2 separate regions of the Homo sapiens genome follow, and region 1 is linked to region 2. The links come from fine-mapping of genetic effects on plasma protein levels. Region 2 holds a variant in brackets. A gene starts in the other region. All regions are shown on their forward strands.

Region 1 (11,160 bases), not on the chromosome of region 2:
TCTTTTGGGGTGAGCCCTGAAATGATGTATATTCCACCCACACTGGGGGCACCCAAGGAGGCTCCCTTCCCTTCACCTGCCCCTCACCACCATCCCCAAGGCTCACCCGTCTCTGTCCTCTCGCCGTCTCCAGCCTGACCAGGTGGGAGGTCCTGATGCCCTTCCCAGGACTGGGCACTGCGGTGGCCCCAGCACAGGGCAGGGCCCACCTGAAGCAGTGTGACCTGCTGAAGTTGTCCCGGCAGCAGAAGCAGCTCTGCGGGAGGGAGCCCAGCCTGGCTGAGACCCTGTGGGACGCCATGCACCTCGGCCTGGAGTGCCAGTTCCAGTTCCGGCATGAGCGCTGGAACTACAGCTTGGAGGGTAGGAGGGGCCTGCTCAAGTGAGGTGGGGAGGAGGGCTATGGGAGGAGGAGGGCTGGGGGCGCGGGGGAAGAAGGCTTCTGGGAGGAGGAGGAGGCTGGGAGAGGCTGCCTTTTCCTCTCCCCTGGACCCTGTGCCCAGAACACACTGCCCTTGCTACCCTAGCACGGTTCCATATGAGAAGAGTCCCGGGATTAATGAGGGGCAGTTGAAGACCAGGTGTGGCCCAGCCTCAGGTTTCGGGGAGCAGAGGAGCAAGGAAGATCCAAGAGAAGAGGAGACACAAGTCCGGTCCTGGAGGAGCCCACAGATGAGAGGGGGGTCCCCTAGTTACCTTCCTCTGCCTCTTCACACACACATGCGAAACAAGGCACATGAAGACATGAGGACAGGCAGCAGCGGGTTCCAGGACCCATGACATGAGCCAGGCCATGCATTTGTTCACTCCTTTAGCTGTCCCTTTGTTCATCACATCCATTGATCCATCAGTCCCTCCCTCCCTTCCACTCCCATTCTACCTCCCTCCCTTCTTCCTGCCTCCCTCCCACCTCCACCCACCCACTAAGCATCCATGGAGGCCCACAGTAAGCCAGGCACTGTGCTAGATGCTGGAGGTTCAGAGCTGAACAAGACCCCAGCTGCCCTTGGGAAGCATGCAGTCTAGAAGGGAGAACACAGGTCACCATGTGACTCCCTCACCAAGGGGAAAGGGCTTTGATGGGACATTTTTTTAAAAAATGCAGTGATGCTGTACAGGGCAGCCAGGCCTCTCCTAGGCCAGCTGCTCTCCACTGTCAGCAGTCAAGCTGATGGCCTCTCTCAGGACATCACTAGCACCCAGATGCACTGAGGGCAGGTAGGAAGTAGTGAGCCGGTGGGAGGACAGCTTTGGGCCACACCCAGCAGAAAGGAGTAGCGGTGGTCCCGGAGTGGGTGGGATGGTCAGTCTGGGGCAAGTCAGCCAGGAGACTCAAGGTCACTCTATCATTGGGTCTATTCCACAGTGGGTAGCAGAGAATGATATTTGAGAACCATCATGCATCACAGGAAGCCCCCGGCGCTTATCTCAGCGGCCTCAGAAATAGGCCGATCCAAATGGTCACACACTGACTTGGAGTCAAAATGGCGGGTTTAGCCCCAGCTGTGGTGGCACCAGGTATCTGCGTAGCTTCTCTTTGCATCTCAGTGTTCTTCTCTGAGAAGTGGAGGCCATAGCCCCTGGCCTGCTGCCCTCTGGGAATTTGGGCATGTCCTCCACAGTGAATTTGGAAGTTCCATTTAAGTGGGAACTCGCAGTCAGAGTTTAAGGGGCAGTTGACAGGGAGACCCACCCGGAGTTGTGTCCTCAAGCCACATTCCCTCATCCTGCCCATTGCAGGGCTACCACTACCGCCTCCTGCCCTCAGAGAGCAGCAGGCAGCGTCTGAGCTTCTTCCTTTCCTCTCTTCCCCCTTTCCTCCCTCCCCATACCCTTCTACAGTTCCTGGAATGAGTAAGAGAGTCTGGAAGAGCAAGGGGCTGAGAGCCTTCAGTGCCTGCAGAAAAGCCTGGGTTTGTAAGGGCAGCCAAGGCTGCAAAGGGACACATGGTTTGAGCTCTTGAGCTCTTCAACACTGGGCTGTGACAAATGGGGATAAGGAATAGCCTGTTTGCTGGTATTTAGGGTACACTGGTCCCCAGATATCTCCTCCCACCTGTACTATGGAAATTTATCATGGGAATTTCATTTCTTTTTCTAGAGATTCTTGGCTGCGTAGAAATGCGGTCCTGGTCTCACTTGGCTACTGAGCCATCCCATAAACTTCAGTGATATTGACATTGACATTGAATTTCTCACCCCCACTGAGAGCAGGGTTGGTTTGTATGTTTGTTTGTTGTTGTTTTGAGACAGGGTCTTGCTCTGTCACCCAGGCTGGAGTGCAGTGGTGTGATCCTGGCTCACTGCAGCCTCAATTTCCCAGGCTCATGCAATCCTCCCACCTCAGCCTCCCCAGTACCTGGGACCACAGGCACATGCCACCACACCTGGCTTTTAAAATTTTTTTTGTAGAGACAAGGTCTCAGTATGTTGCCCAGTCTACTCTCAAACTCTTGGGTTCAAGTGATCCTCTCACCTCAGCCTCCCAGAGTGCTGGGATTACAGGCATGAGCCACCATGCCTGGCCGAGGGCAAGTTTTAATAAGGAGAAGAGGCCAGAAGATGAGACACTTTCGGGAGAAGTGGAGATGGGAGAAAGGGGTTCTTTTAAGGCCGGGTGTGGTGGCTCACGCCTGTAATCCCAGCACTTTGGGAGGCCAAGGTGGGTGGATCACGAGGTCAGGAGTTCAAGACCAGCCTGGCCAAGATGGTGAAACCCCATCTCTACTAAAAATACAAAAATTAGTACGGCACGGTGGCAAGCACTTGTAATCCCAGCTACTCAGGAGGCCGAGGCAGGAGAATCGCTTGAACCTGGGTGGCAGAGGCTGCAGTGAGCCGAGATCATGCCACTGCACTCCAGTATGAGCGATAGGGTGAGACTCCATCTCAAAAAAAAAAAGGTTGGGGGGGGTTCTTCTATGAGTGGAGGGGCTCTCACGCCTGTTAATCACCTAGCATGTGCCAGGAGCTGCCCAGAGGCTGAGTTACATCACCCAACTCCATCTTCACGACAGTCCTATGCCAGGATTTAACCAGCTCCATTTCACAGATGAGGATGTGGAGGCTCAGGGGAGATAATGTCCCCTAATCAAGGTCACACAGCCAGGAGGGAGTGAAGTCAGGATTCCTACCCAGAAGCCCCTGCTCTTCCTACTGTGCCCCTTCTGGGGTTGGTGTGGGCATGAAGAATTGGTGCACATTTTACAACCTTGCCCCATAAAAGCAGCAATATTGAGGAGGTAGAGGGGACCTGACAGGCCACACAGCTGAGGCTCTGTGGCCTGAGGCAGCCAAGGCCTAAGTCCATCATCCAAGCAGCCAAGACCCACCACCCTCCAGAAGGCTCAGCAGGTCATGCCTCAGGGGCTCCAAAATGGCCAGGCAGGCTGAGAAAATCTCCAGGTTGTGCAGCGGGGCCTGCAATCCTGAAACCAGAAACTGCAACTCCACCCCCTCCCCATGGCAGCGGGCCTAGGGGGAGGGAATAGGGGTGCTGGGATCCCAAAGTAACCCTGCAGGAGAAGGAGGCAGAGGCACCTTGGATCTAGCCAGATGGGGAGGGGCATCTGGTCTCAGCATAACCCCCTTCCAAACCCTGACAGTAACCCCTGGGAAAAGCACAGCCCCCTCTCAAGCCCAGAGCCAGTTTCTCCCTAGGATCTGTGTACTTGGAGCAAAAAGTTACCCGACACCCCACGCCTCCCTGCCTCTGCTACCCACACTTCTGGGCCCCCGGCAGGGACTGTGACCTGGTCAGAACAGCTGGTAGCCCATGTGCTTCCACCCCCACCTTCTCTCCGTTCCGGACTTTCAGGTCACGACACAGGGAGGAAAAGAAGGCTATGCTGGGAGTGGAGCCTCAGAGGGAAAGGGGGCAGGGATGCTTAGGAATATAAAGGGCCTCAGGTCCTGGCCAGAGACACTCTGCTGAGCTCCTCTGCACCTGCCCAGCACCATGGTGATGTCTGGTGGCCAAGTCTGGGCCCCCATCAGCTGTATTCTCTAAGAGCTTGGGGATGGGGGCTGGCACCAAGGGCCCCTCCTCAGGCCCACTAAGGGCATGAAGGAGTTAGGCCAGGGCAGCCTCGTCTGCCATTCTGATGGCCAGGATAGCTACTAGGGCTTCTTATTCCTGCTTGGGGTGGTGGGGATGAGGAGAGTTCCTGGTTAAAAGAGGGTTGAGGGGCCTAGGAGCTCTGGGAGTGTGCATCATGTTTACGGGCATCATAGTCTGTGAATCATTGTGTGTTGCAGGCACAAAATTCTCTGTGCATTGGGTGTGTGAATCCTCAGGCTGGCTTTCCTGTGTGTAACTGTTAGTCATTCATTTAATATGTATTACTGAGTATCTGCTAAGTGCCAGGCACCATTCTAGGTGCTTGTGATCCATCAATAGACAAAATAGGCGAAGAGCCCAGCTGTAATTAATGATGCTTACATTGAGGGAGGATATGCCGCTGGGAAGGGACTCAGACAACAAATATAAGTATAGAATATAGTAAGTTAGAAAGTGCAGGCCAGGTGTGGCGGCTCATACCTGTAATCTCAGAACTTTGGGAGGTGAGGCGGGAGGATCTCATGAGGCCAGGAGTTTGAGACCAGCCTGGGCTACATAGCAAGACTCCATCTCTACAAAAAATTAAAATTTAGTTGGGCATGATTGTATGCACCTGTAGACCTAGCTACTTGGGAGGCTGAAGCAAAAGGATGGCCTGAGCCCAGGAGTTTGAGGCTGTAGTGAGCTATGATCCCGACACTACATTCCAGCCTGGAAGGCAAAAGAAGGCCTTGCCTTAAAACAATAAAATAAAATAAAAAGAAAGAAAAGAAAAAATAGGGCAAAAATAGAGCAAGAAAAAGAGCAAGATGAGGGGTTTGGTTGCAATATTATTTTATTTATTTATTTTTTTAAATCGTAGAGACGGGGCTCTCTGTCTTTTGCCCAAGCTAGTCTTGAACTCATGGGCTCAAGCAGTCCTCCCACCTCGGCCTCCCAAAGTGCTGGGATTACAGGCGTGAGCCACCGCGCCCGGCCAGGTTGCAATTATAAATAGGGGTGTCAGGGTAGGATCCATTTAAAAGGTGGATTTTGAGCTAATGCTTACAAGGGGAGACAGAGCTGGCCATGAGGATGTCTGGAGGAAGAGTCTTCCAGGCAGAGAACAGAGTGACCGTCATTTTGCGGGAACAGCAGGGAGAAAGGAGGGGGATAAGCAAGGAGTTTGCGGGAGAGAGGGCAGTGAGGTTAGGGAGCTGACCAATGGCTTTATGCCGTCCTCATGCGTCCACCTTAGGGTGTGTCTCCTCGTTCGTTTTTTTTTTTTTTTTTTTCTTTTTCTTTTTTTTTTTTTTCTTTTTTTGAGACGAAGTCTGGCTCTGTTGGGCAGGGTGGAGTACAGTGGCGCAATCTCGGCTCACTAAAACCTCCACCTCCCGGGTTCCAGCAATTATCCTGCCTCAGCCCCCAGAGTAGCTGGGATTACAGGCGCCCACCACCACGCCCGGCTAATTTTTGTATTTTTAGTAGAGACGGGGTTTCGCCATGTTGGCCAGGCTGATCTTGAACGCCTGACCTCAGGTTATCCGCCCGCCTCGGCTTCCCAAAGTGCTGGGATTACAGGCGTGAGCCACCGCGCCTCGATGCTCTGCCTGCATCACCGGGCATGTCCAGGTGTGTACCATTCCTCCGAGCACCAGGATGTCCCTTAAGGCGTCCGTGCTCTGGTGTGTGTCCCAGAAATAGACACGACCCTCGGTCTGAGCGCCCCTGCACCCCAGCCTGCCCACCGCGCGGAACACCTGCAAGCTCCGGTCCGGGTGCCGCGCTGACCACAGCCCCGGCATCACGTGACCTCCCGCGGCTCTGTCTGCCCCGCCCCCTCCAGACGCCTGCTCTGCGCTGCGCATTCGCTCTGGCCATAGCGGGCCTCGTGTCGCTGCTGATGCAGCCCGAGGGCGCCCTCGGCGAGGAGCTGCAAGTGCCGCAGCCCAGGGCCGCCAGTTGGCTGAACTTAGGCTCCATCAAGAAGTACTTGGGGAAGCTCTTCAACAGCAGGTGGGCCGGCGGAGGGTGTGAGGAAGGGAGGGAGGGAGGGAGGAAAGCGGGGGGTGGGGGGGGCGCGGGGGGGGGACACGGACGCCACCAGGCACCCCCACGCACATCGCGGCCTGAGCTGGGCTCGGGGAGCGGCCTCATGACTGCAAAGACTTGTTCCCAGCCCGAAGAAATCTAAAAACCACAAGAAAACTGCGAACGCCACGGACACCTCCCCATCAAAAGCCACGAAACCCCCACCATGGACCACCACGAACCCCCAGTGGCTGAACACCTCGGAACCCCGACCACCGACCTCCTCCCGGGGCCCCAGGTAGGACAGCCTGGATGCTGGGCACCGAGCCAGGGGCCTCGGGGCTGGGGGCAGCTTGGGTGCTAGCGAGAGGAAGTTCCTGGGGGCGGGCATGCGGGGAGACACAGCACCCCTGTGGGGGGGGCTTCTTTCTCCAGGCTGGGCCTTGGCCTCCAGACGCCTCTCTGCCCACCAACCCCTTTGTATTGAGAGGGGCCTCGACCCCTCCTCATCCCCTCAGTGAAAACAATAAAGACAAATTTTTGTTGCTTCAGTGACTTCTGTGGGCCTGCGGGCAGGGAGGGACCAGTCCATGGAACGGGAAGTGGGACCCTGTAGTTTCTGCTGTGAGAGAAAAAGACCTCAGCTGTTGGGGGTCCTCCCCTGCCTCCCCTGGCAACCCATCCACCTTCCCCCACTCCACCCACACATGGCCTTGTGGGTCTGGCCCTCCACCCCGTGGTAGAGACACAGATACGGGTCCTGGAGAAGACACTTATTGCCCCTGTAGTCCTGCACAGACAGCACCAGTGTGGGGGGCTCTAACCCAGAGGGAGAGCAGAGGTGAGAGAAGAAACCTCAAAGAAGGGGCTTCAGCTAGACACACCCCAACTCCCACCTGGCTCAAGTTTCTACCAAACAGCCCAGACTCCTCTCCCCATTCACCGCGCATCCCCTTAAGCTGCCAGAGAAAATGCTGGGACTTCAGGCTCCCTCTCCCAGACTCAAACCGTTCTTTTGCGAAACCATCTCTCTATCCAGACATCTTTGGATTTAAGAATCAACCTGAGGCTGGGCACAGTGGCTCACACCTGTAATCCCAGCATTTTGGGAGGCCGAGGTGAGCAGATCGCTGGAGCCCAGGAGTTTAAGACCATGCTGGGCAACATAGCAAGACCCTGTCTCTAAAAAATAAAAAAATTTGCTGGGTGTGGTGGCATGTGCCTGTAGTTCCAGCTGTTTGGGAGGCTGAGGCAGGAGGATCGCTTGAGCCCAGGAGGTCAAAGCTATGGTGAGCTGTGATCATGCCACTGTACTCCAGCCTGGGTGACAGAGCAAGATCCTGTCTCCAAAAACAAACAAAAAATCAATCTGAGCCAAGCAGCTGCATCCTCTAGAAGCTCTTTGCCTTTTAGGACCTGTTTCTACTTCCAGGTCATTTGCACACACCAGATGGAGTAGGACTTGAGGGGAAACACAATTGTGTGTCATTTCCATTTCTGTGCAAGGTGCTGAGCCCAGGAAAGTGGACCCCTCATCCTCCAAACCCATAACCCCATCCCTTGAGACCAAGCATGTGGGGGAGGCAGGAGAAGCCTTTCTAGGAACCAGAAACATTCTAGTTCCCTCACTTCTCCCCTTTACACATGCGCGTACACACGCATGCACACGCGCACTGTCCCCACCTATTCAGGGTGCCTGAGAAGGGCCAGGAAAAGATGGGTTCTCTGGGAATCTGGGAAGTCCTCCCTGGGGCAGGATCCAGGTCCTTGTCCTCCCAGGGCTGGAGTGTACAATCTACAGATTCAACTCATGGTGGCTGGAACTCTCAGCTAATCTAGCCTCCTCCCCTTCCACAGCAGCTTGAATACCTCCTGTGCCCAGGACTTCACTACCTCTCAGGGCAGCCCATTCTCTCCAAATTTCTGGACGGCAGCTCAGGCCCCTGGATGCAGCCATGACTGCCATAGCACCAGAATCGTTCTTCCAGGCTGGGCTGTGCCCCTGCCCCCATGCCAAGGGTGCTTTCGTATAAATTTTGGTGCTTCTGCTGCCTAGGCTGCAGTAAGGCACTGGTGAGGGGTGCACTTGGGGAAGGGTTGTCATCAGGCTGTGTCGGGAAGGTCTATGGGTACTGAACTGGGAAGATTCAAGACTGCCACTTCACAGACTTGCTGAAGGACCATCTGCTCAGAGGAGTCCCTGCCTTCCTCTGGCCACCACTTTTCCCTCTGCGAAGGGGAGAGGATGAGTTGAGTGACTCTGATGACCCCCGCCAACGTTCTGGATGATCCCCTTTTCCTCTGCCCTGCCCTGCCCTCCCCTTTCTCTCCCATGCATTTGGCACTTCCTGCTGCCCCCACCAGGGGTCCACAGAGACACAGGACAGGCTGTGGCTTTGACTTGCTTTATTGAGCCTGTGTGGGAGCAGGGAGCAAGCTTTGGCCAGAGCCAAGGGTGCAGAGGGGAGAGCTGGGCTGGCGCTGCTCATGGAGTCGTAGGAGACAGAAGGTGGCATTATAAGTCCAGCGGGCTGAGCTCCCTGTGAGGACAGGGCAGAACATGGCAGTGTAGGGGGTAGGCCTCGTGCCCTCAGGAGGCCTCAGGCTGGCCCTGGGCTCCTGTTCTCCCTCTTCCACCCCCCACTACACCTTTCCAAGCCCTGATTCAGTCCCACCACCCCCATTTCAGCTCCAGGGAGCTGGACAGACAGGGCAGGGAGTCAAACTCACCTGGGGACAGCAGCATGCGGGGACCCCCACTCCGAGAAGGCCAGCGTGTCCTCTTTGTGTCTTTTCCCATACCTGGGAGGGAAGAGGCAGCAGGGGCAAGCACTGTGCCCAGGTGCCAGCCCACCTGTTTCATATCTGCCTGTAGGCACCATCTTGCCCAGGGCACATTGGTCTAGGCCTGTTGAGCACAGATGCCCTGTTTTCCCAAGAGCAGGCCTGGAAGGGGCTGGGGCTGGGGCTGGGGATAGGGTGTGGCCAGGAATGTGGAGTGGGCCCAGGGTCCCAGGGGCTGGGATCTCTCTCCCCAACTGTGGCACACACCTAGGCCTGGTCAGCATGTTGATGTATCTACGGAGATCAGCTGCATACTGGGCCATCTGCTCTGGTGTGGCATTGTCCCCTGGGTACACTGGCTCCAGTGGGGCTCCCTGGGCACCCAGCAGTGGCTGTAGTAACAGAGCCACGCAGGTGGACAGGAGCAGCAGGGAGAGGCAGAGGCGTGCGGCAGCCATCTGAGGAGCAAGCAGAGGGGAGGTGGAGAGCCCGGGCTGCAGATTTTCCCGTGCCCAGGAAGCAGGGCCCAACTATCCAGCCCCTTAGCCCATCATCCATTTCTCCAAGCCTGGGGACAAGGGGGCAGAGCAAAGGGCCACTCCAAGCTGGCCACTCCACCTCCTAGACACTGCTCTGAAGGCACGGACAGCCTGTCCTGTGAGCAGCCCAGCAAGCCAGGGCCTCGCAAGTTAGAAAAGTATAGCAGAGAAAATGGGGATGTGAGTCCTGGAGACACGGGACTCATGACATCCAGGGCCTCATGGCTCCCAGGAGGCAGCAGCTAGTGGGAATAAGGGCATGCCAGGTCACCCACAGGGTGGGGGACACAGAATGAACTCGGGAAGCCAAGGACAGAAATCCATGGCCTTGTGGGTCTGGCCCTCCACCCTGCGATAGAGACACAGATATCGGTCCTGGAGAAGACGCTACTGTCCATGTCGTCCTGCACAGACCAGCAAAGGCACTCACACAGGGACCCCAGTCACTCACAAGGTCACAGTCACACATTCCAGTTCACAGCCATGCACACGAGTGTGCACACACACGTGCAGTCAGCAGACGGCTCTTCTAGCGTGACAGGTCTGTCCAGATGCAGAAAGCAAGACCCAAGCAGGACCTTAGGCCTCCCAAGGCCCCTGGCCCTGCAAAGCACCACCTCCTCTCCATCCCAGGCCCCAGCCTGGGGGAGGCCCCCAGAGCCCCAGGCAGGCTGAGCCCACTTACCCGGAGTCCAGAGTAAATGGGCACTAGACCAAGCGAGCACCTGCCTCAGGCCGGATGGGCCCCTGCCCTCGGCTGGGCCGCTTTATAGTCCTCAGCCCCCCAGAGTCCCCGCCTCCTGTCAGCCTCTCTCACTCCGAAGCCCTCACCCCTCCTCTCACTGTCTCCTCATACTGGCAACGCCAGTACTGAGGCCAGAGACGGGAGGGGGACAGGGCAGTTCTGTGGGTGCCAGACCAGCAGCATAACAGATAAAACTGGACCACAGTAAAAGTCTCCTGTGGGCCCCCATCACTGACACCCCTTCCCTTTGGGCACCAGAGCAGGCTTGGTTCAAGAAAGATGGGGTTCTGGGACTCGAGAGTGACTGAAAGGTTTTGGTCACAGGCCTTGGAACTAGCTCTCCTGCCTCCCAAAGATCAACCCAAATCATCCAACGGATTCTCTTGGGGCAGAAGATTGAGGCTGCAGCTGGAAGACTGAGGCTACAGCCAGAGCCTCCAGGCTGAAGAATGGAAACTCAGGCCATCCTCTGCAGCTTGCAACTAGAACAAGGTGGGAAGAGGGAAGGGGCCTCAGGTCCTCAGGCAAGGTGGAAAGGAGTGGGGTGCCAGGCTTGGAGAAACCCATTTGGTGGGTGCATAGGATGCAGAATGAGAACTCATGTGCCTGGGTTCAGGGGAAATGTTGAGGGGGGTGCCGGTTTCCAGTATCCATTTCCCTCCCCATCTCAGAGCCCCCATTCCAGGGAAGTGCTAAAAACCAGCTTCATTTGTAAAGCCTCACATTTTCCAAAGTGCTGCCAGCTCAGTCACCTCACTAAATCCCCACAACAACCCATTTTACAGATTCAGGATCTGAAATCTGCTCAGAGATGTCAAATCACTGGCCCCAAACCCCACAGCCAGTCAGACCCCAAAATTTAACTCCAAACCTGGACTGTTTTTTTTCCTAAGTGGGGCCGTCAAAGTATTGTTATAATTTCCCACTTTTTGGCTGAGAAACCTGAGGCTCACAGAGGTAAAGACGCTTGCTCAAGATCTCATAGCTACCGAGGTTCCGAATTCTGGCTTAGATTCTCA
Region 2 (11,477 bases):
ATATCTGCACATATAAACTGTATCATATATATCTGCACATATAAACTATCATATATAATACATCTGCACATATAAACTGTATCATATATAATCTGCACTTATAAACTGTATCATATATATCTGCACATATAAACTGTATCATATATATCTGCACATATAAACTGTCATATATAATACATCTGCACATATAAACTGTGTGTATCATATATACATCTGCACATATAAACTGTGTGTATCATATATAATACATCTGCACTTATAAACTGTATCATATATATCTGCACATATAAACTGTATCATATATAATATATCTGCACATATAAACTATCATATATAATACATCTGCACATATAAACTGTATCATATATAACTGCACATATAAACTGTCATATATATCTGCACATATAAACTGTCATATATATGCACATATAAACTATCATATATAATACATCTGCACATATAAACTGTGTATCATATATAATACATCTGCACATATAAACTATCATATATAATACATCTGCACATATAAACTGTATCATATATAATACATCTGCACATATAAACTGTGTATCATATATAATACATCTGCACTTATAAACTGTGTCATATATCTGCACATATAAACTATCATATAATACATCTGCATATATAAACTATCATATATACATCTGCACATATAAACTATATCATATATCTGCACATATAAACTGTGTGTGTATCATATATAATCTGCACATATAAATTGTGTATAATACATCTGCACATATAAACTGTATCATATATAATACATCTGCACATATAAACTATCATATCTGCACATATAAACTATCATATCTGCACATATAAACTATCATATATCTGCACATATAAACTGTATCATATATAATACATCTGCACATATAAACTGTATCATAATACATCTGCACATATAAACTGTCATGTATATCTGCACATATAAACTGTATCATATATATTTGCACATATAAACTGTGTGTATCATATAATACATCTGCACATATAAACTATCATATATAATACATCTGCACATAGAAACTGTGTATCATATATCTGCACATATAAGCTGTGTGTGTATCATATATATCTGCACATATAAACTGTGTGTATCATATATAATACATCTGCACATATAAATGTGTGTATCATATATATCCACACATATAAACTGTGTGTGTATCATATATCTACACATATAAACTGTGTGTATCATATATAATACATCTGCACATATAAACTGTGTGTATCATATATATCCGCACATATAAACTGTGTGTGTATCATATATATCTGCACATATAAACTGTGTGTGTATCATATATAATACATCTGCACACATGCTTCTCTGTATTGAAAACCAAATTGTCACGGACCACTCCCATTCTCACGCAGCATTTAGGGCTGTGGCTAGCCTTTCCCAGCTGTAAGAAACCTGTCTTTCAGCATGATAAACACATTTACTTATTTGCTCAGTCCTCTAATATGCAGAAAGTAGTTTTAGAATTGCCAAAACCATACAACTTGGAAAAACAAGCATGATTACTTCAAGATGTGTTTGTAGCTCCTTCTGTCCTGGCATTGGACGTGGAGAGAAAGCACAGACTGTTCCAAGTTTCATTTTTCCCCTTCTCTGAAACGCAGAGAGCGTTGTTTGTTTCTGTTTGTATTTCATTTGGGTCCTCCCTCTAGCCTTATTCATAAATTTGTAAATGATCTTTAACAATCTGTTATATTTATGATGTTTTACTGCGTGCTGCCTGTGAAAATGTTTCCTTCTTCTGACACGTTCCAGAACAACTAGGCTTTTAAATTCCAAATATTCCTGTTTCACAATAAACCAGATGAGGGCCTCTGTTGTGCCACAGCTTTTGGAATGTGGTTTATTACCAATAGAAGTGGCTGCGTGGCTTGTTATGGTTTCAATTACACGTGAGTAACAACCGGGGCCCTTCTGTGTCAGGTGCTGCTGATCAAGGCTGGCTAATGGGGACCTCGCTGTCCAGAACGGGCGTTTCCCATGGCCCGGCCCAGCTGTTTACCACTTCTGTCTACCATTTCAGAGGGGCTTTGCGGAGATTAAATGAGGTGAAGCGCTCTGAGAACCTCAGTCCTAAAGAATAGCAGTTATACTGGTTTTTGTATTATATTTATATATTCTTCTTGTTAATATACTGGTTTTAATGTTCATCGTTCTCTTGGGATCCCATGACAGTGAGCCTGGTGTACCTGAGGTCTGGGATACTCACACCTCTCCCCAGTCCCATGCTCCCCACTGTGGCAGTGCCTGTCAGGGACCCTGCTGACCCCAGGAAGCCTCGGTGTCCCCAGCGCTGGCTCTGCTCACACAGGCAGCAGGCTTAGTGTTCTCTGGCCTGGCTGCACTGACTGGACCAGGGACAGGGGAAGGGCCCCAAAGCACCCTGTTCCAGGCAGCCGGCCAGTCGTGGCCGAGGAGCTCCATTCAACAGTGGCACCCAGAGGGGCCAGGGTCTCATAAAGCTGGTCAGACGCCCCCTCTGGGTAGGGGTGTAGGAAGCGGCTGTGCAGCCGGGTCCCAGGTAGGGAGGCATAGAGTGAAGGCTGTGAGCAGGAGCCCTGGGGCGGAGGGCCAGGAGAAGGCTGGGCACAGGTCCATCGGTGGCAGCTGGGTGGGCAGAGCAGAGAGGCTGCATCTGCACGACGGCAGGGCCCTGGTGTGGGAACAGCAGACGGGGCCCCTGGGTGCGGCGCCTCCTTCCCACATCCCTGCTGCTCCTGCATCTGCTGCTGGAGAAGACCACGACGTGCTCAGACCCCGGCACTGGAGAACTCCAGATGTGGTGAGGGCTGCACGTTAGCTGCATACGCACATCTGGAAGGTGAGGCAGACGTGCCCACCGCCTCCATGCCTGGCCCACAGTTGTGGGCATGCAGAGCTCCTCTGTGGCAGGCCCAGGCTGCACCAGCTGCCTGGAGAGGCACTGGGGGCGGGGCCTCACTTGAGGGGCAGATTCTCCCACCCAGCCAGTCCAGGCCCAGCGGCTGGAGCATCCCGTCCAGCAAATTGTCCTGCAAGTTGCCCTGGAGACCCAGCGTCTCTCATCACGTCTCACTCCCCTGCCAGATGCCTCTGCGGCAATAACGAGAGTGGCTCTGCCTTCTGCACTGAATGCCGACAGGTGACCAGAACATGACACTGGGGTTATGCAGTGCCCTGGTTGATATTCTAGTTCATCAGGGAGCTTCTGGAATGATTTTTTTTTTCTTTTTTTTTTTTTTTTGAGACAGAGTCTCTCTCTGTCGCCCAGGCTGGAGTGCAATGGAGCAATCTTGGCTCACCACAACCTCTGCCTCCGGGGTTCAAGTGATTCTCCTGTCTGAGCCTCCTGAGTAGCTGGGATTACAGGTGTCCACCACTATCACTCAGTTAATTTTTATATTTTTAGTAGAGATGGGGTTTCACCATGTTGCCTGGGCTGGTCTCAAACTCCTGACCTCAGGTGATCTGCCTCCTCAGCCTCCCAAAGTGCTGGGATTACAGGCATGAGCCACCTCACCCAGCCAACTTTCTTTTGCTTCACTTTTCCTCTGGTTGCCCCATCTTTATTGTCAAGTCCTGTTAAGAGGAACAACATTAAAATGAGAGCTTTCATGGCAAAAAGGTTGCTGTGGGTTGAGCTTGCAATGTTAGCTGCGTGTTAGGATTCAGCTGACATCTGTCTCTGGAGTCTCGCCCTTTCTGTAATTCGCTTTTGACTGTAATAAATGTTGTACAGGCCAGGTGCAGTGACTCACACCTGTAATCCCAGCACTTTGCAAGGCCAAGGCAGGTGGACCACGAGGTCAGGAGATCGAGATCATCCTGGCTAACACGGTGAAACCCCGTCTCCACTGAAAATACAGAAAATTAGCTGGGTGTGGTGGCACCTGCCTGTGGTCCCAGCTATTCGGGAGGCTGAAGCAGGAGAATCACTTGAACCCGGGAGGCGGAGGTTGCAGTGAGCCAAGATTGCACCACTGCACTCCAGCCTGGGTGACAGAGCGAGACTCTGTCTCAAAAAAAAAAAAAGAAAAGAAAAGAAAAAGAAAAAAACGTTGTGCAGTGAATGTGTGGGTGGGGCCTCTGAGTTACATCGGCTCAAGGCCTCTTTTAAGGAGGACCCAAATAAGAGTGGGGATTGATGTATTTGACTGGGAACCCACTCAGGGCCACCATGCAGTGAAGCTCCGGAGCAGGGGTGTAGACGCCCTGCTTGAAGCGTTGAGAAGCCCCACAGTACAAGTGTGCAGAAGTCAAGCTCCTCCTGCTGGAGCAGGGACAGGGCAATAGGGAAAGGCTTTTCCAGAGGCAGGGTCATTGGGACTGGCTCTTCCGGGAGGAGCTGAGGGCACACGCTGGGCAGAGCTGACCTCTGTGTGCGGATCGCCTGGGATGGCGCCTCCGGTGGCCTCACGATAAAGCACCTCAGAGGCAGGAGATGAACTTGAGACCTGACCGTGAAGGAGTGAGGAGTGAAGTCCTCTTCTCAACAGAAGGAAACCATCAAAGAGGTTACATAATCAAAACTGTGTTGTCAAAATATTGCTGGACAGAGATGGCGGCTGGTCCGGCACGTGGGAATGTTGGTGACAAGAGGTCAGTTCGGTGGCTCTTGGACCTCCCAGGCCAGGAGGGAAGCGCCCAGGCCAAGGTGGGAGCCTGAGAATAGAGATTTCAAGAGACGCTTCTAATGAATGCTCATCAGAATGTTATTATTATTTTATTTTATTATTTTATTGGGACTGGATTGACTTGCATTTCCTTCACTAATCAGAAGTTTGAGGGCAAAGATAAATCTCAAATAATCACCTTGCATTTCTGATGAGTTAAATGAGTGTGTTTTATGCCCTGGTTGTATGAGCTTGCTTTTCCACAAATAAGAGTGGAAATTTTATTTTATTATTATTTTGTATTATTATTTTATTTTATTTTTGTATATTATTTTATTTATTTATTTATTTTTATGTGGCCCAGGCTAGAATGCAGTGGTGCGATCTCAGCTCACTGCCACCTCCGCCTCCCAGGTTCAAGCAATTCTCCTGCCTCAGCCTCCCGAGTAGCTGGGATTACAGGCACTCGCCACCACACCCGGCTAATTTTTGTATTTTTAGTAGAGACGGGGTTTCACCATGTTGGCCAGGCTGGTCTCGAACTCCTGGCCTCAAGTGATCCACCCACCTCGGCCTCCCAAAGTGCTGGGATTACAGGGGTGAGCCACCGCGCCGGGCCAGAATGTGGTGCCCTTAAACGAGAGGGTGGAGGGGGCAGTGGAGGCTTGGAACGTCTCTGAGAAGGGGGCGGAGGCTCATAGATTTCAGAGGAGGAGGATTTCAACCTGAGGCGCGTTGCGTTTTCTGGGGCTAGTGGCACCCGTGGAAGTCAGGGCTGAAGGATGTAGACACCAGCTCTGGGTGGCAGCCTAGGGATCCAACAAAATGTGCAGTCCCTTGAGGAGAACGAGGTATGAGAGGAAGGGGCCCCAGAACAGAGCAGCGGGTGAGTCCAGCGGGTGGAGAGAGGCCCTGTGAAAGCAGCCACAGACCAGCCGTGGAAGCATCTAGAGTCAACTCAGACACCTCCCAGGGAAGGCAGTTCTACAGCACGGAGCCAGCATCACGTAGAGACTGAACAGTAACTGAAGTGTGTGGGCTTCTGGAGGGCCGCGCTGTACCTCCCTGAGCGTGGAGGACTCCGGATGTCTGTGTGGATGCTTGTGTGTAGAGAGTGTTATCAAAGTGCTATAAAACTTGGATTTTTCTAGTGACAGTAACACTGGCCAGGGAATGGGGAGCTTTTCTTGTTCTCAGCCTTAACTGTTGCATCACAGGCTGCACTGATGAAGCCGATGGGGGGTGTGGCTGCACAGGGGCCGAGTTCACCAGAAGGTGACACTTATCTTGAGTAGAGCTGGACAATGA[T/C]GAAAAATGATGTTTGCGTGGTAAAATGATGAAAGGGAACAGGGCCAGTTTAACATGTCCTAAGGATGCAGGGGGTGTTCAGAGTTCGGGGGCCGTGTGTTTGGGGAAACAATGGCCCCTGTGTGTCCCACAGGCCAGGCGGGCTCGGGTGCCAGAGCTAAGCAGTGCTGACCTTGACATGTCCAGATGACGATGCTTGGCCCCAGGACTTCCGTGGCCCCCTCCTCACTCTCCCCAGCAAAGGCTGACCTTTCCGAGCACGACTGACCATGGCCACCGCGGTGTTTCCCTCCCTCCTGCTCTGGGGAAGGAGCCGTCAATCCCTCGTGCACTCAGTGCCACCAGGGCTGCTCCCGCCCGGGGCTCACACTGATGTAAGGCCTGATGAGCCTGGGCCTCGCCAAGCAGAGCCAAGTCTCAAGCCCACGCCGGGGCAGCTTCAGCTCTGGTGGAAGGAAAAACGATCAAGACCAGCTTTTAAGGTATTTTCTATAGAAAATCACTGAGAATGGGCTGGGCGCAGTGGCTCACACCTGTAATCCCAGCTACTTGGGAGGCTGAGACAGGAGAATCGTTTGAACCTGGGAGGCGGAGGTTGCAGTGAGCCAAGGTTGCGCTACTGCACTTCAGTCTGGGCAACAAGAGCGAAACTCTGTCTCAAAAAAAGAAGAAAAACATTGAGAATGGATTATTCATTTCATTTTGTCAGTGTTTCCAAAGAAAGAGGGCAAATTCTTCCACTTACATTATTATTATGTTTGCCAGTTAACATTTGGCCATGTTTGCTTTTCCTGTGGTTTTTCAGTACACGTGTATATACAGTTACGTAGGGAGCCATTTATACCCATGCATGTTCTGATGGGATTGTTGGAGTACAGACATGGCCACGCTTCACTTGGTAGCCTCAGCCTGCAGCCTGGGAATGAGCGCGTTCTCCAGGGCACCACAGCACCTCTCGACCAGCTTCCAGTCCCGTCATTCTTCATTAAAAATAAGACTTCCTGTGCCCCTCTCCCTCTCTCCCCCGCAGAGATCACTCTGCTCATCTTTAGGCCACTGAAGTAGTCCCGGAGGGCCTGGGTCCGCGAGCCTGGTGAAAAGCGATGCTCCGACCTCATCTGTGACTCTCGAGGGCTCCTCGTCCACTGTGGCGAGTGCAGAGGACGCGGCCTGGGCAGTGCCTGCGGGGAGACCGTGCTGGCCTGGGCTTCCCAGTGAGCGGGGCTCCTCAGGCTTCCTGGGCCCTCGTCCTCCCGGACTGGTGGCACTGTGTGCCTGTTGGGGGGTGGCAGGCAGCGGGAAGGCCCAGGTGTGGCTTGCAGGCCTCTAACGCCAACTGCACAACCTTGAAGCTCCACTCCAGCTACGCTGTGGCCCCATAGCCAGGTCTGGGGTCATTTCTTATGACACCACCTGTCCTATTTTGTTACCTTGTCCCTGCGCTAGTTAAAAAGCAAGTAGAAAGGTTAAGCATCACTTGTGCAGTCCCCTGGCAGCTAGGCGACGGCCCCTCTGTCAGCCTGTCAGTCAACAGGGCTGGAAGGGTCCATGCTCACCGGACCTGTCTGGCCTCCTCCTGACCGTCAGCCAGGGCACCACCCACTCTGAGCTGCTGTGGCCCATCATGTCAACTTACCATTTCCTTTCTCTCTAACTGTTCAGGCAGGCCTGTGAGCCCACAGAATCACAGCCTCAAGCTCTTGGCCTCAGGGTGGGCCCCCTGACAATGATTCTCAGTTCTTCTCTCCGCTGATCTTTCTTCCTGATGGAGAGGCACGGGGTAGGCGGCCGGCTAGCTGTCGCGGGCTCTAGTGAAATCTGTGGACAAGTGCTGAGATAGGAGACACTGCACTGGTGACGCCTCAGGGCCTCAGGGTCACACCAACAGGGTCCGGCTGGTGCCGCGACCAAGTCACAGCGCCTGTCTCTGTCATCAGCTTTTCCTTTTCTCCCATATTTTCAACTTGGTTAGAGGGCAGGAGTCCCGCTCGGTTTGCCAGCAACCTCACATTGATAAGAATAAGTGCACTTCTAGCTCTCCGATCCTGGGATTTTATGACGTATGACGGGTTTTGTGTCCCTGAAAGGACGTAGGACTGTGTCTATCATTGGGTTGGTTCTCATCGAGACAGAGCGGGTGCCTGTTTATTGAGCAGACTGGGTCTCTTCCCATGGAAGTGCACATAGGAGGGTCTCTGAATCCATTCTTCTTTTCATTCCCCATTCTGCCGTGAATATTGTTGCAAACATCCACATTAATATCGATTTTGTCATTCTTTTTTTTTTTTTTGAGACAGAGTCTTGCTCTGTCGCCAGGCTGGAGTTCAGTGGAGCGATCTCAGCTCACTGCAACCTCTGCCTCCTGGGTTCAAGTGATTCTCCTCCTGCCTCAGCCTCCTGAGTAGCTGGGACTAACGGGCACGCACCACCACACCCAGCTAATTTTTGTATTTTTAGTAGAGATGGGGGTTTCACCATGTTGGCCAGGATGGTCTCGATCTCTTGACCTCGTGATCCACCTGTCTCGGCCTCCCAAAGTGCTGGGATTACATATTTTGTAATTCTTAAAAGCTGATGGATGATCCAGGACATCTGTGCTGTCTCCAGGAGAACTATCCTCATTGAAAGTAAAGCAAGCTTCTTTTTTATTGGCCGGGCACGGTGGCTCATGCCTGGAATCCCAGCACTTTGGGAGGCTGGGGTGGGAGGAGTGCTTAAAACTAGGAGATTGAGATCAGCCTGGGCAGCAAAGTGAGACCCGCCCCGCATCTACACAAAAATTAAAAATATTAGCCAGACATGGTGGCATGCAACTGTGGTCCCAGAGGCTCAGGAGGCTGAGATGGAGGATCCCTGGAGCCCAGGAGTTCGAGGCTGCAAGGGAGCTATGATCACATGACTGCATTCCTGTCTGGGCAACAGAGTGAGACCCTGTGTCTTTATTCTAAAAAAAAAAAAAAAAAAAATTGAAATGGAAAGTCAAGCAAAGCTTGCAAAGTACAAGACAAGACCCAAGGCTCTGAGGACCAGCCTAACATCTCGGAGCCCAGCACCGCACGGCAGGCACCTGACAGCCACCCTCCATCAAACAGAGGCTGTTACTGTTTCTATTACTATTACTACTATTATTATTGCTTAATTTTGCCCAGCCTTGGCCAAATCCCTGATTTCCTAGGAAGACTCAATCCCAAACAGATGTGTGCAAAGGCCTAATTATCAGACAGGATGCAAAAACAAAGCACAACAAACCTAGACCTCCCGGGAAGTCTTTGTCCGGCACTCACCGCGTGTGGAAAAGCAAGCTCATACAACCGGGGCGTAAAACACACTCATTTAACTCATCAGAAATGCAAGGTGATTATCTGAGATTTATTTTATCCTTGCCTTCAAAATTCTGATTAGTGAAGGAAATGCAAGTCAGTCCGGTCCCAAGCCAGCTGGAGCAACCCTCAGATCGCCAGTATTCTCGCCCTTTCTGACTTCAAGGGACAAAGGGTTTTAAAGGCCCTCTGTTTTCTGAATCAGACTTAACAGGGCCGACGGAGTCTGGTTTCCTACTTTAGCAATGGTGGAAATAACACTGATAAATCAAGTTTTGGAGGTGTTCGAGCCTCACACCTAGGCAGCGGAGTGTAGGCTGGGGAGCTTGCGGGGACGTGCTGCACTGGCCCAGGTGTCCTGCCGCACCCACAGAGCACTCAACACAGAGCTCAGAGACAGCGGGTATATCACACAAGATGCACTTCCGGAACTGTGCCTCCACCCCTGTGTGTGTGAAGGAATGAGTGTTCCTTTTTTCCTTTTATTTTAACAGTTGACACTGTTAAAATAGTTCACATGAGGGCTGGGTGCGGTGGCTCACGCCTATAATCCCAACACTTTGGGAGGCCAAGGCAGGCGGATAACTTGAGGTCAGGAGTTCGAGACCAGCCTGGCCAACATGGTGAAATCCCGTCTCTACTAAAAATACAAAAATTAGCTGGGCGTGGTGGCAGGTGCCTGTAATCCCAGCTACTCGGGAGGCTGAGGCAGGAGAATCGCTTGAATCTGGGAGGCGGATGCTGCAGTGAGCCGAGATCATGCCCCACTGCACTCCAGCCTGGGCAACAGAGTGAGACTCTGTCTAAATAAATAAATAAATAAACAAATAAATAAATATAGCTCACACGGACGGGCAGAGGGCTGTTCCCCCAGAAGGTTCTGGATGGGTCTGGTCTTCCTCAGAACTCTGAGGCATCACGGGCAAGGCACCAGGAGAGAGCGGGATTTTCACTTTGCCGTCTTTCACTCCAGGGTTCCCCTCTGCAGGCCCCGAGTCAGGGCCTGGACGAATCTGAGTTGCCGCAGCTCCCTAGGGGCAGCTGGAGCAGCTGTTCTGCCCCCAGACCTGCAGGGACCCCCATCTTCACGCGGAGACAGGCGGGTGCTGCAGCCTCCAGGACCCGCTAGCTTCCTAGCTGAGTGCTTGGGAAGCACCTGGAGCAGCAGAAACAGCCACTGGGGCTGAGGAGTCAGGAGAGAGGCAGCGGCGGATGAGCTCTGTCTGCCCAAGCAGATTCCACGGCCAAAGCAGGGGGTCCGGGTATGGCGGGAGCTGGGCCCTGGCGGCTGCAGGCTGTGCACGTGGTCAGGACTCAAGGAGGTCCGGGAGTCGGGCCAGGACACGGGGGAGCGCCTGGGAGCTGCTCCCTTCCTTCCCTGCTTCCCTCAAATCGATGTCCTCTGGTTCCTACGGCCTTGGGGGCTTTGAGGGAAGCGACTCTGCACACGGATGGCAGGAGCTCTGTGCCCTCAAGCCTGCCACCCCGGAGAGCTTCCCAGGGCCTGGAGCCCAAAGTGCCATTGAAGTCGCAGTGGGAACACCTTGCCAAGCTGAGGCGCTCCGTGCCTAATGGGATAATAAAGCACTTTGTCACCCGTGAGTGAGAGGTCTGATAAAAGCAAAATATTATCACAGCATCTGTGATTAGGAGGCAGCTGCACACTGGAGACACAGCCACATTTATGAGTAAATAGAATTTGTTTCTGTGCTCTGATTATGAGGGTCACAGTGGTTTAACCCTGTTGCGGAGGCCTCAGATACATTATCTGCTCAAATAGAACTGGGAAGGAAAACACCGGCGGTCATTAAAAGCAAATTACTTTGTTGTACAAAGATAGAAGGGAGAAGGCCGTGGAAATCTTGAGGTGTGGGGCCCTGGGGGTGCCACGGAAGGGCAGCATCTCTGGAGGCACCTGCAGGCGGGAGCTGGGACATGGGAGTGACCCGCCAATCCACCGGCAGCCAGAGATTCAAACAGGTCGAGGGCTCCCTGCGGCTTCCTGGAAAGCTCTCGGGATATTTTTAGTCAATTCTGGAAGCTGCCTAGAGTGCAGGAGGTGAGGGTGTCTGTGCCTTCTTTACCTGTGAAAACAAAGGGAAAGATTTCTGCGAGATGAAATTGGCCCGTGTTTCTGGTTTTTATTTATTTGTTTGTTGAGACCGAGTTTCGCTCTTGTTGCCCAGGCTGGAGTGCAATGGCGCA

Direction of the effects. Positions count from the first base shown, and alleles are read on the strand shown. Strength reflects both the effect of a copy and how common the allele is.
With allele T in place of C in region 2, the plasma level of the protein whose gene starts at base 10,137 in region 1 is higher (weak association).

What was found. PIP is the posterior inclusion probability: the model's chance that the variant is causal. Protein levels are from antibody-based Olink assays in UK Biobank. Linkage for the fine-mapping came from a reference panel and not from the study's own genotypes, which makes the PIPs less certain.
Region 1: it holds the start of PPY, and the variant in region 2 is fine-mapped to the plasma level of the PPY protein (UK Biobank, PIP above 0.99).

The regions. Positions count from the first base shown.
Region 1 is chr17:43,932,340-43,943,499 of GRCh38, forward strand. It overlaps PPY (pancreatic polypeptide), which reads right to left and starts at 10,137. Exons shown (of 4, transcript NM_002722.5): 1 at 10,082-10,137; 2 at 9,125-9,315; 3 at 8,804-8,875; 4 at 8,465-8,613. The coding sequence starts at 9,315. The coding sequence ends at 8,589. It overlaps LINC01976 (long intergenic non-protein coding RNA 1976), which reads left to right and starts at 5,922. Exons shown (of 2, transcript NR_136406.1): 1 at 5,922-6,058; 2 at 6,222-6,623. It also overlaps LOC102724183. RefSeq lists an enhancer at 5,708-6,208.
Region 2 is chr7:156,982,826-156,994,302 of GRCh38, forward strand. No RefSeq gene overlaps it. Among named protein-coding and RNA genes, the nearest start is that of MNX1-AS2, 18 kb to the right of the region's middle. The variant T/C (reference allele first, on the strand shown) is at 5,953.